Linked DNA regions of Homo sapiens. The protein of the gene in region 3 purifies or fractionates together with the protein of the main gene of each other region. This does not show direct contact. Each region holds a gene or a part of one and is shown on either strand. Other genes may lie near its edges. The genes, in order: PRMT3, CARS1 and GFPT1.

Evidence for each region.
Region 1: the proteins of GFPT1 (region 3) and PRMT3 fractionate together in Homo sapiens (co-fractionation; one large-scale study listed by BioGRID). This does not show direct contact.
Region 2: the proteins of GFPT1 (region 3) and CARS1 fractionate together in Homo sapiens (co-fractionation; one large-scale study listed by BioGRID). This does not show direct contact.

What each region holds. Positions count from the first base shown.
Region 1 is NC_000011.10:20,492,140-20,495,793, forward strand, and holds part of PRMT3 (protein arginine N-methyltransferase 3), read left to right. Parts: intron 1-1,779; coding exon 1,780-1,830; intron 1,831-2,027; coding exon 2,028-2,115; intron 2,116-3,654. UniProt on the Homo sapiens protein: Protein-arginine N-methyltransferase that catalyzes both the monomethylation and asymmetric dimethylation of the guanidino nitrogens of arginine residues in target proteins, and therefore falls into the group of type I methyltransferases.
Region 2 is NC_000011.10:3,026,347-3,030,000, forward strand, and holds part of CARS1 (cysteine--tRNA ligase, cytoplasmic), read right to left. Parts: exon of another isoform or gene 3,098-3,654; coding exon 2,957-3,097; intron 2,739-2,956; coding exon 2,650-2,738; intron 452-2,649; coding exon 330-451; intron 1-329. UniProt on the Homo sapiens protein: Catalyzes the ATP-dependent ligation of cysteine to tRNA(Cys).
Region 3 is NC_000002.12:69,321,167-69,324,820, forward strand, and holds part of GFPT1 (glutamine--fructose-6-phosphate aminotransferase [isomerizing] 1), read right to left. Parts: 3' UTR 1-3,654.

The DNA.
Region 1 (3,654 bases), on a different chromosome or scaffold from region 3:
GTAACTAACATAACAGAATGTATAATAAACACATTTGCTCATCAAATATTGTATTGTATTGTATCCTATGGGCCAGGTTACTGCTCTGGGCACTGAGAGTATAGTGGTGAACAAGACAGGCATACAGGAATAAATAAGAAAACAGTTGAATTGGTCTGTGAAGGGGTATCATAAGTATCTGGAAATCAACTGATAAAGTTATATTTAGAAATATTCTAATTAACCACGTGGTTTTTATGATAATCTGTGGCTGAGTACTACATTGTTTTATAATTCTATTTGGCAGAATTATTACTAGTATTTTGATTCTCTCTTGGTATCTAAATTGCAGTGAACCTCAGGGTTAAATATTGAGTTTGGTTTGGACCTAATCCATATTAACCCTACCAGATCAATAAAATGTCACATTTTTAACAAAAGTAGCAGAGTACACAAATTAGCTTTACCATGATTTTTCAAAAAATCAGTGTCCTGTTTTTTACACTTTCTAAGCTTAATGTAATGCCAGCTTTAAAAAGTGATTAAGTCCAGCTAGTTCCAATAGTGAAAGAAAATGGAATGGTATTTAAATTTAACCAAAAAACTCAAAATTATGTATTTATCTGAGTATGTTAATTTCTTTAAGAGATCTTTTGTAGGCTGGGTGCAGTGGCTCACACCTCTAATCCTAGCACTTTGGGAAGCCGAAGTGGGTGAGTCGCAAGGTCAGGAGTTCGAGACCAGCCTGACCAACATGGTGAAACCCCATCTCTACTAAAAATATAAAAATTAGCCGGGTGTGGTGGCGCACGCCTGTAGTCCCATCTACTCAGCCTTGCCTGACCAACACGGTGAAACCCCGTCTCTACTAAAAATATAAAAGCCAGGTGTGGTGGCGCACGCCTGTGGTCCCATCTACTCAGGAGGCTGAGGCAGGAGAATCGCTTGAACCCAGGAGGCGGAGGTTGCAATGAGCTGAGATCCCTCTGGGCAACAGAGCAAGACTCCATGTCAAAAAAAAAAAAATCTTTTTGTACTATCACAATAACCCTTAGAGCTCACTTTGGAGTTTCTCCTTTGAGTACTTGCTTAAACATAAGATTTGAGTACTACTGTTCATTTTTTCAGGAAAAAAAAAATAAGTAACATTTTAAAAATCTTTATTTCATCACAAAAATATTCATAGTACTTAAAAACAGATATACTGGACTAGAAGAAATTAAATGAACTGGCTTTGTATAAATAGGATGTTTTAATTATTTATTGCTATGTAATAGCCCATCTCAGAACTCTGGCTTGAAGCCCAAACCATTTTTATCTGTTTGTTTCCGATTCTGCAATCCTGACTGGACTTAACTGAGTAGTGCACTTGCTGGTCCTTCCTGGCATCTTTCATGCCGCTGCAGTTGTCTGAACACTTGACTACAGCTGGAGAAGTCAAGATAGCCTAATGCGTGGGTGGACATCTCAGTTGGCGAGTGAGGATCAGTGAGGGGCCAGCTGAGTCTCTCTCTCCATGTGTGTTCACCTTTCAGTGGTCTAGCATGATTATTTCTCTAATAAAATGTACTAATTATTTGATTAGCCTTATTACCTTTATTATGTTGTTTCTGTGAGGAAAAGCCAAATTACATTACTTCGTTTTTACTTACAACATCTTTTCCAGGAAAAATATTGAGTTTAAGAGGTATTTAGTCTCTGAAATGGTTTATCATTTGCCATGTCTTAAGAGACAGTAATGAGTTATTATATTATGTAATTCATTTAGTAAGCATTTATATTTCTTTTTTTAAAAAACAGGCAATTGCTGGCTACTTTGATATATATTTTGAGAAGAATTGCCACAACAGGGTAAGTATCATGAATTATCTCATAAGAATTAATTATTACAGAAGTACATTATATTTTATTTTGTGCCCCAAGGTGTTTAATCATAAGCATTTTGCTGCTGTAAGCAATTGGGGCTTGTGTTTGATGTCGTAGATTAATGTACCATGATATTAAAAATCTTGTACTTCATCAAATACCTTTGAACTTTACCAATTCAGGTCGTGTTCTCTACGGGCCCTCAGAGCACCAAAACACACTGGAAACAAACAGTATTTCTACTGGAAAAACCATTTTCAGTTAAAGCAGGTGAGAAAGAATAGTAGGGGGGAAGTATCTTATTCATTCTGAAGTAAATGATATTCATTCATTTTACAGCCACTTTTTATGTGCACACTATATTTGTTTTTTGAGACGGAGTCTCGCTGTCTCACCCAGGCTGGAGAACAGTGATCTCGGCTCACTGCAACCTCCATCCCCTGGGTTCAAGCAGTTCTCCTGCCTCAGCCTCCCAAGTACTTGGGATTACAGGCACACACCACCACACCCAGCTAATGTTTGTATTTTTAGTAGAGATGGGGTTTCACCATGTTGGTCCCCAACTCCTGACCTCAAGTGATCCACCTGCCTCGGCCCCCCCAAAGTGCTGGGATTGCAGGTGTGAGCCACTGCGCCTGGCCTGCACAATATATTTGAAGCAATATAACAGATGTTAAGAAAAGATATTCTTAGAGCTTACCATCTACATAAATTTTAGATGGCATATCATTTAATTAAAGACATAATTTAAGAAAAATTTTTAAGTCTAATTTCTGCCAACTAAAATAAATAAGACTACCTGGCTCTTAAAGTATCACAAAATAATTCAGAAAACTTTCGGCAATAATTAGTATTTAATAAGTTACAAATATAACTAAAAATATTTTCTTTCTCCAAGTGACTGAAGAGAAATATTACCAATAAAATAAAAGTTAAAGACAATTTCATTCAGTAGTTATTGTAGGCCAGGCACAGTGGCTTATGCCTGTAATAAGCCACTTTGGGAGGCTGAGGCAGGAGGATAACTTGAGGCCAGTTTTGGGTTTTGTTTTTTCTTTTTTGAGACGGAGTTCCACTCTTGTTGCCCAGACTGGAGTGCAGTGGCACCATCTCAGCTCACTGCAACCTCCACCTCCTGGGTTCAAGCAATTCTCCTGCCTCAGTCTCCCAAGTAGCTGGCACCACCACGCCCAGCTAATTTTTGTATTTTTAGTAGAGATGGGGTTTCACCACGTTGGCTAGGCTGGTCTCAAACTCCTGACCTCAGACGATCTGCCCATCTCGGCCTTCCAAAGTGCTGGGATTACAGACATGAGCCACCGCACCCAGCCGAGGCCAGTTTAAACCAGCCCAAGCAACATAGCAAGACCCTATCTCTACAAAACAATAAAAATTATCTGGGCATAGTGACAAAAGCCTGTAGTCTTAGCTGCTTGGAGGCTGAGGCAGGAGGCTTGCTTGAGTCTGCAGGGAGCTATGATGATACCACTGCACTCCAGCCTGGGTGACACAGCAAGACCATGTCTCAAAAAAAGAGAAAAAGTTATTGCATTCAAAATATATTTGTCTTAGCATTCTCTCCACTGTCTCTTCCCTGCCTATCCAAATCTTATGCAGTATTCAAGGGCTAATCAGATTCTATTTTTTATTTTAAAAACTCATTGATTGTTCACTTACATTAGCACCTATAGTTCTGACATACCTATATATTTCACTCTAAAAGTTAGAATTTGATTATGGAATTTAAAAATTTAAACTGCTTACTACATATAAGTCTTCTTGTACCACCTTCTCTGAAAACCTCCTGAG
Region 2 (3,654 bases), on a different chromosome or scaffold from region 3:
CATTCCCAATGCAAAGAAAAGGTAAACGTCTAAGGTGACGAGCATCCTAACTACCCCGATCATCACACACGGTGTGCATGTATTAAGACATCACATGTTCCCCATAAATTGCATAATTATTATATATCCATTAAAAAAACACATGTCATGGTCTTAGAGCTGCACAATGTTGAGTGCAGAAAACTCCTAAAATTCCTTCAGGTGAAAAAGCACTGTTCCCAAGAGTCTGAGGGGTGGGCTCAGCGCAGCCCCCGTGGCCTGCAAAGTCAACACAACCCAGGCTGGGCCAGGAGGGAGAGCCCACATGCTCTCAGGCATGCCCTCCTCACCTTCCCCTTCTTGAAGGGCTTTCTGATCTCCAACGGCCTCAGGCACCAGCTTCCCATAGGAGTGCTTCTCGCTAGAAGCAAACTTCGCTGTATCAAAGTAGACAGACCCATTGGAGACATAGCTGGAAAACAGAAAAGGAATTGGGTGGGTGCATCTAACAGACCCGAAAGTGTGTCAGCAGGATGACAGTAACAAAATAAAGCAGGGCTATAAAAGTGCGAAATCTGTGGCCTATCTACTCTCTGTGGTGGCCACTGAAAACCGTATCAGCTGTTTGGACTGAGTGGGACACCAGGGCCCATCCCGCTGCGGAGGCAGCCTGCCTGCCCTGGGCAGCTCGTCCCTCTGCCTGGCGTCCTGTGACCCATGCAGCTCCCACCCTGCCTTGCTCAGGGCTGCTGCCGTCCTCATTCTTGTGTGGCCTCACCTTTCCCTGAATGTCCACACTCTACCCATTAGCTTAGCTGAGGCTCTTGGCCTCCAAGAAGCACTCTAGATTACTCCAGTCTGGAATGACCTGTCCTCTCTGAGCTTCGGCTTGCCCATGCCTCTCGGCTTGGCACAGGCTCTTATGCTGCCCCACAGTAGTTTGTGTGAAGTGGGGAGAGAAGCAGCGCTACTGCTTAAGAGTCTGCCCCGTTCCTGGCACTGTCACAACCTCTTGTTTCTCTTTCATCCAGCCTGTGTGGTTCCTGTGGGAGGGAAGCAATCTGAGGCTGGACACAGTGGGTCTCTGGGAGCAGGCGCACGGTACAGTGCTGAGCACTACTGTGGGCGGCAAGCCACCCAGGTGCCGAGGCAAGAGACCGAGGGCACGAGCTGTTCCAGTATAATAAAATATAAAATAAGAATAGTTATACCAGATATAGATCTTAGATATGATTATATATGAATATCATTAATCATTAGTTTGTAGCAATTACTCTTTATTCCAATATTATAATAATCCTCGCTCTATAATCATAATCTAGGAAAAACCAGGCCATACAGAGATAGCAGCTGAGGGGACATAGTGAGGAGTGACCAGAAGACAAGAGTGTGAACCTCCTGTTATGCCCGGACACGGCCACCAGAAGGGTTCCTTGGTCTAGTGGTAACGCCAGCGTCTGGGAGGATGCCCGTTGCCAAGCGGACTGTGGTCTAGCGGTAGCGTAAGTGTCAAGGAAAAACACCCGCTACTTAGCAGACCGGGAAAGGGAGTCTCCCTTGCCCCGCGGGAGTCTGGAGAAGACTCTGCTCCTCCACCTCTTGTGGAGGGCCTGACATGAGTCAGGCTCGCCCGCAGTTATCCGGAGGCCTAACCGTCTCCCTGTGATGCTGTGCTTCAGCGGTCACGCTCCTAGTCCTCCTTCATGTTCCATCCTGTACACCTGGCTCTACCTTCTAGATAGCAGTAGCAAATTAGTGAAAGTACTAAAAGTCTCTGATATGCAGAAATAATGGCGTAAGCTGCCTCTCTCTGTCTCCTCTCTCTCTCTGCCTTGGCTGCCAGGCAGGGAAGGGCCCCCTGTCCAGTGGACACGTGACCCACGTGGCCTTACCTATCATTGAAGATGGCTCACTCTCCTTAACCTACCCCTTTGTCTTGTATCCAATAAATATCAGTGCAGCCTGGCATTCGGGGCCACTACCGGTCTCCGCGTCTTGGTGGTAGTGGTCCCCCGGGCCCAGCTGTCTTCTCTTTTATCTCTTTGTCTTGTGTCTTTATTTCTACAATCTCTCATCTCCACACATGGGGAGAAAAACCCACCGACCCTGTGGGGCTGGTCCCTACACACTACAGACAGATAACCGGGTTCCTGTCTGCATTTCCATTTGTTGGCCATTTCTGAAAATGCTTACTTTGGAGATTGAGACAATACGGGCCAGGGAAGTGTATGATGGATTTGCCAACAAAAAGTCACTAAAATCATAGCCAAGCGATAGATGCTGATGAAATGCATCCTCCTTCGGGATATGACACCAGGACTAGCACTCTCAAAATGTCTACGCAATGGCACTGATGTCTGTGAAGGCCCAGCAGTATTCGCACTCACCATTATGCAGCTCTGGGGCCCCATGACTGATGGTCTTGGCTGCCGAGCTTCCCAGCAGATTCTGGGTTAGGTTCTCACCATGGCCCCCAGGACAGTGCAGACCCATGCTCCTCAGCCCCTGGGTGGGCCCAGAGTTGTAGGAGGAAGTCTGCTGGGACTTCTAGCTACGCAGCCCCAGAACACCTGCTCCTCTGCTTCCCAAACTCAGGCTCAGAGCTGGGGAGCTCCTCCCTGTGCGATGTTCTGCAGCCCTTCCCTCCCTAGGGAAGGCCCTTGTGCTTACCCGTAACCGTTGTCCACAATCTTCTGGACAAAGTTCACAATTTCTGGCACATACTCACTAACCCGGGTTAAGACATCTGGAGGGAGAACCTGTGCAAGACATGAGAATGTCCTGGGATTTTCCCTTCTGAAAACCACGCGCTCCATAAAAACGTTCCCAATTCATAAAACGAAAAGCCCATTATGCCCCTCAACTCAAGTTCAATGTTGACTTGGCCGCTTAATTGAGCTGGCCTTGCCAAAACAGGAATTTAGAAATCAGGGCCCTTAGCGCAAGAGAGCCAGCACAAGACAATCGTGACACTTACATTCAGAGCTTCCATGTCTCTGTGGAAGTCCCCCTCCCAGAACTTGGGCAGCTTGGAGAAGATGGAATTGTCAGTGACATCACAGCCAAGTGTAGAATCCAGCCAGTCAGAGAGCAAATCCTTGGCTTCTTCCAGCAACACCTGAAGAGAAAGAAACAAAAATCCAGCAGCGGGCCACACACTTCACATGAGAACATCTCGTGCAGCTGGTGTGAGCCCATCAGTGCCCTGAATTCAAAGGTGCTGACCTTGACCTGTGAAGAGCCACCGTCTCCTAGGGAGACTGTGATGCTTACACAACTGGCTCGGCAGGGACAAATACAAGACTCTACAAATGGGCAGGTCTCACATGAACTCAGAGGAGCAAAGCCAAGGGGACTGTGGGTGCAGAGGCAAAAAGAGGTGGGAGGGCCGAGGTGGGCCTGGTGAGCATGTGCAGCCTACCTGGGCCGTGCAGGGCAGGGTTATGGGCAGAGGCTGGGCAGGAGCACACAGTGTGTCACCTACAGCACAACCCCTTGGTGCATTCAGGAAAAGATTCATGACGGACACAGCCAGAGGTTAGGAGAGATAGGCAGGGCACTGGTCCCAGAGGTCTCAAAAGCCCCATCTCCCTGACGCCATTGACTGAAGATGCCATCCCCACTTGACACACCATGGAATGGGAGTAAAAACCACCAATCCCAGCAAAACATGGC
Region 3 (3,654 bases):
AGTTTTAATCATTGCATACCCCGTAAACTTCCTATAAACAATATGTTATTGCAAAATGTTTTAAAAGATGTGAGAAAGTATCTGTGGAGTTTGGTATCAGAAAGGGCAGAGCCTTTGTTTTATCTAACGATTCTTTCCCAAACTGGGAAGTTCGGGTAGAGACAGTGGCTTTTGGTAATATTTAGGCAGTGATTTCTTATTCTTAAAATCAACAGTAATGAATAAAGTTTTGACATCAGAAATGTTTACAACTAAAGTAGACATTGATTACATTCTTAGTACAATACAATTTCTAACATAACTACAAATGTGTATACACTTCAAATATTAGCAAATTGCTTCAAAATGAAATTCTAAGCAAGTTTTTGGTAATTTATTCACAGTTCAGGCTTACTCACTGGACTTAACGACATGAGGAAGAAATGACCAACTGGCTCAGTAAACTAAACATTCATTTCAAAAATCACAAAACTGAAACAAAGCAAAGATGATCCTAAAATTTCCACTTCTCAAGAAGTGTAATTTAAACAAATACCAAAAGCTTTATTTAAGCAAAAACACATTCAACCACAGAACATTCAGAAAGCTAACAGGATCATTTCTACATTCATTCTGCAAACAGTGTAGTAAGAAAGGTAATTTGAGAATTTCCAAAGATGTTCTCGCTAGCCATTATTTATGGTAATTACATAACATTTTGATGTCAAGTTATTACAGACTTAAAAGTTAATATAGCATAATTTTACAATCGTACTTTCACTATGATTTTTATTTTAACCCTGGATATTATTGGTTTGAAGCTAATATTATCAGTCCTATTGGCTGTCACTGTCACAGATCTGAAGATATGTTTAAATTCATCAAGCTAGGAAGATATCAAAATATTAACAATCTTCAAGTATAGTGAGAAAAAAACTGATTTAAGTGTTAGCATTTCTAAACTTGAGACTCTAACAGTAAAAATAAAGTAATCTGAAACCTGTTTCCATGGGTAAAACACTCTGCCTGGTATTCTTGTACACAAAATTTACTAAATATGTGAATATCATAAAATGAAAATATCACTCCCTTCAATTTCTTTGGCCTTCACAAATTCAATGTGACTATGATCCTTTTCAATAATACTTTCAATGACATTGTGCTTCTTTAGAAAAATCACTTAAGTTGTAGCATACAATAGTTAACATTAGTTCTTTTATTGCTATGGTATATGCTAATTTTTTTAAAAGGGGAAAAAAAAACCCAGAGAACTTATTAAAATGTTTGTTAAAGCAAACATTTCAGTTGGTTTCCTTTCTTTGAAGAATAATAGAAATAAATGTCAGAGGAGTATTACTAAGGAGCCAAAACAAACAAACAAACAAAAAAACAAAAAACTCCTTTATTACTCCCATCCTCAGAACTAACTCAAGACAAGAGATCTGTATTCAAAAAGATAAAACAATCTCATCTCAGTAACTACCTCCTATGAAACCTAAGAGAGAAAACCTGTAATAGCTCTCTTAACCAACAGCCCCATCTGCACATCACCAAGCACCAGTTCCCTTTGGGTAGCAGTAATGCTTGTTTTTCATCTTTGCATATTAAGGACTGTTGTTAACAGATTTATGGGTCATTTGTAGCTTACTTTGCAAATACCTTTCACTTCTTATGAAACACAATATGCCCCCAAACATGGACCATTATTCAAGTAGACAAAATCACTCACTGACAGCACTTTAACAACCCGCCTCCACTTCATCTTCCCATTCTCTCACCCTATGCCTTCCAATGAACCTAGTCTTTGCTAGTGATGAGTCCATCTGGGGACAAATACTGCTTTAAAGATGATGTAATTTTCAATGCCAACCACAGTGACTTTCCCATAATAGGTATTAATAAACACTTGTTGACATAGTTATAATAAGCTAAAAATAGTTAACATTAATTTTTCTCTTTATCTTTTATTCTTATGGCACAGAATTTATTTTAAAAGACTGAAAAACTGATTCCAATGTAATAATCACTTACTGGGCCACACGCTAGATGACAGACATGCCTCCCTGCCTAAAAAGGGCTCAAAGGAACTCTCAGTTATACATGAGTGAATTAAAACTTTAAATGTACTACAAGAAAGAACTTTTTATATGAAGGATTCTTTATGTAGAGTATCTTTTTTGAAAAATCAGATTTTCTTATCCTATATTACACTGGTTTTAATTGGGCATGCTCACTTTAGTGGTGTGCCTCATTACAATGTCTCTTTTGTGTTAAGAATTAACTTACAAAAGCATTTAAAAATCACTACATCAAATGGGATAGAGAGTAAGAAGACAGGAGAGAGAGGAGAAACCATGTTTTTTGTTTTGAGTCAGGAGGGTCTCACTCTGTCACTCAAGCTGAAGCACAGTGGCACAATCACAGCTCACTGCAGCCTCAACCTCCCAGGCTCAAGCGATCCTACTACTTAAGCCTCCCAAGTTGCTGAGACTACAGGCACAAGCCACCATGCCCAGCCCATTTAAAAAAAAAATTTTTTTTTTTTTTTTTTGAGAGAGTCTTGCTCTGTCGCCAGGCTGGAGTGTAGTGGCGTGATCTCGCCTCACTGCAACCTCCGCCTCCTGGGTTCAAGCGATTCTCCTGCCTCAGCCTCCCAAGTAGTTGGGACTACAGGCGCACGCCACCACTCCCAGCTAATTTTTGTATTTTTAGTAAAGACGGGGTTTCACCATGTTGGCCAGGATGGTCTCGATCTCTTGACCTCATGATCAACCTGCCTCGGCCTCCCAAAGTGCTGGGATTACAGGTGTGAGCCACTGCGTCCGGCCAAAAAAATTTTTGTAAAGACCAGGTCTCACCATGTTGCCCAGGCTGTTCTCCAACTCTTGAGCTCAAGCAATACTCCCACCTCAGACTCCCAAAGTGGAGGCTGGTATTACAGGCTGAGCCACTGCACCCGGCAGAGAATCCATGTTTGTTTGGAAAATATCACTTCTTTGTTCTTGATTTTGGTTTTTGATATTCAGTTTAGAACTTACCCTAGCTTTCAGTATATTTGTGTGTGTGTGTGTACACATGTGCTTTATAGAAAGACACACACAGAGGGAGACAGAGATTATGCAGACTAATGACTGACTTCACATATTAGTTTTAACTTAGAATGCTGAATCATACTTTAAACTATAAGAAATGCTACAAACCCACACAAATTGTGTTTGTAAAACGTTAATATACAAAACATAAGAAATGACACTATACACACGCTAGCTGACTTACACAAAATAATCTTAGAAACAATTAAAGTAGATTAATATAGCTATAATAGCCATATATTATATATAATGTAAATAGTGACCCTATTTTATTCTTAAAAAGATCAGGTTTCTAGTCACCATGTATGAAAGTCCTTCCAAATTACCTCAAAATATAACAAATCTTTCTCTAACCCTAAGACACAAGCAGAATTCTATGCTTCTCTGGCAACAACAATAACTATTAGAAAATCTTAACCTCACCCAGAAGTTAAAACAAGAAAAGAAAGAAAAGAAAGGAAAAAACAGCTTACTTAAATAATTGTGCTAAATAGCTTATCTTCACAATTTAAAAGTAAAAACCTTTGAAAAAGAAGGACTTCACCAAAAACAAACACACTCTCCTATAGCCCTGAAGATCTGG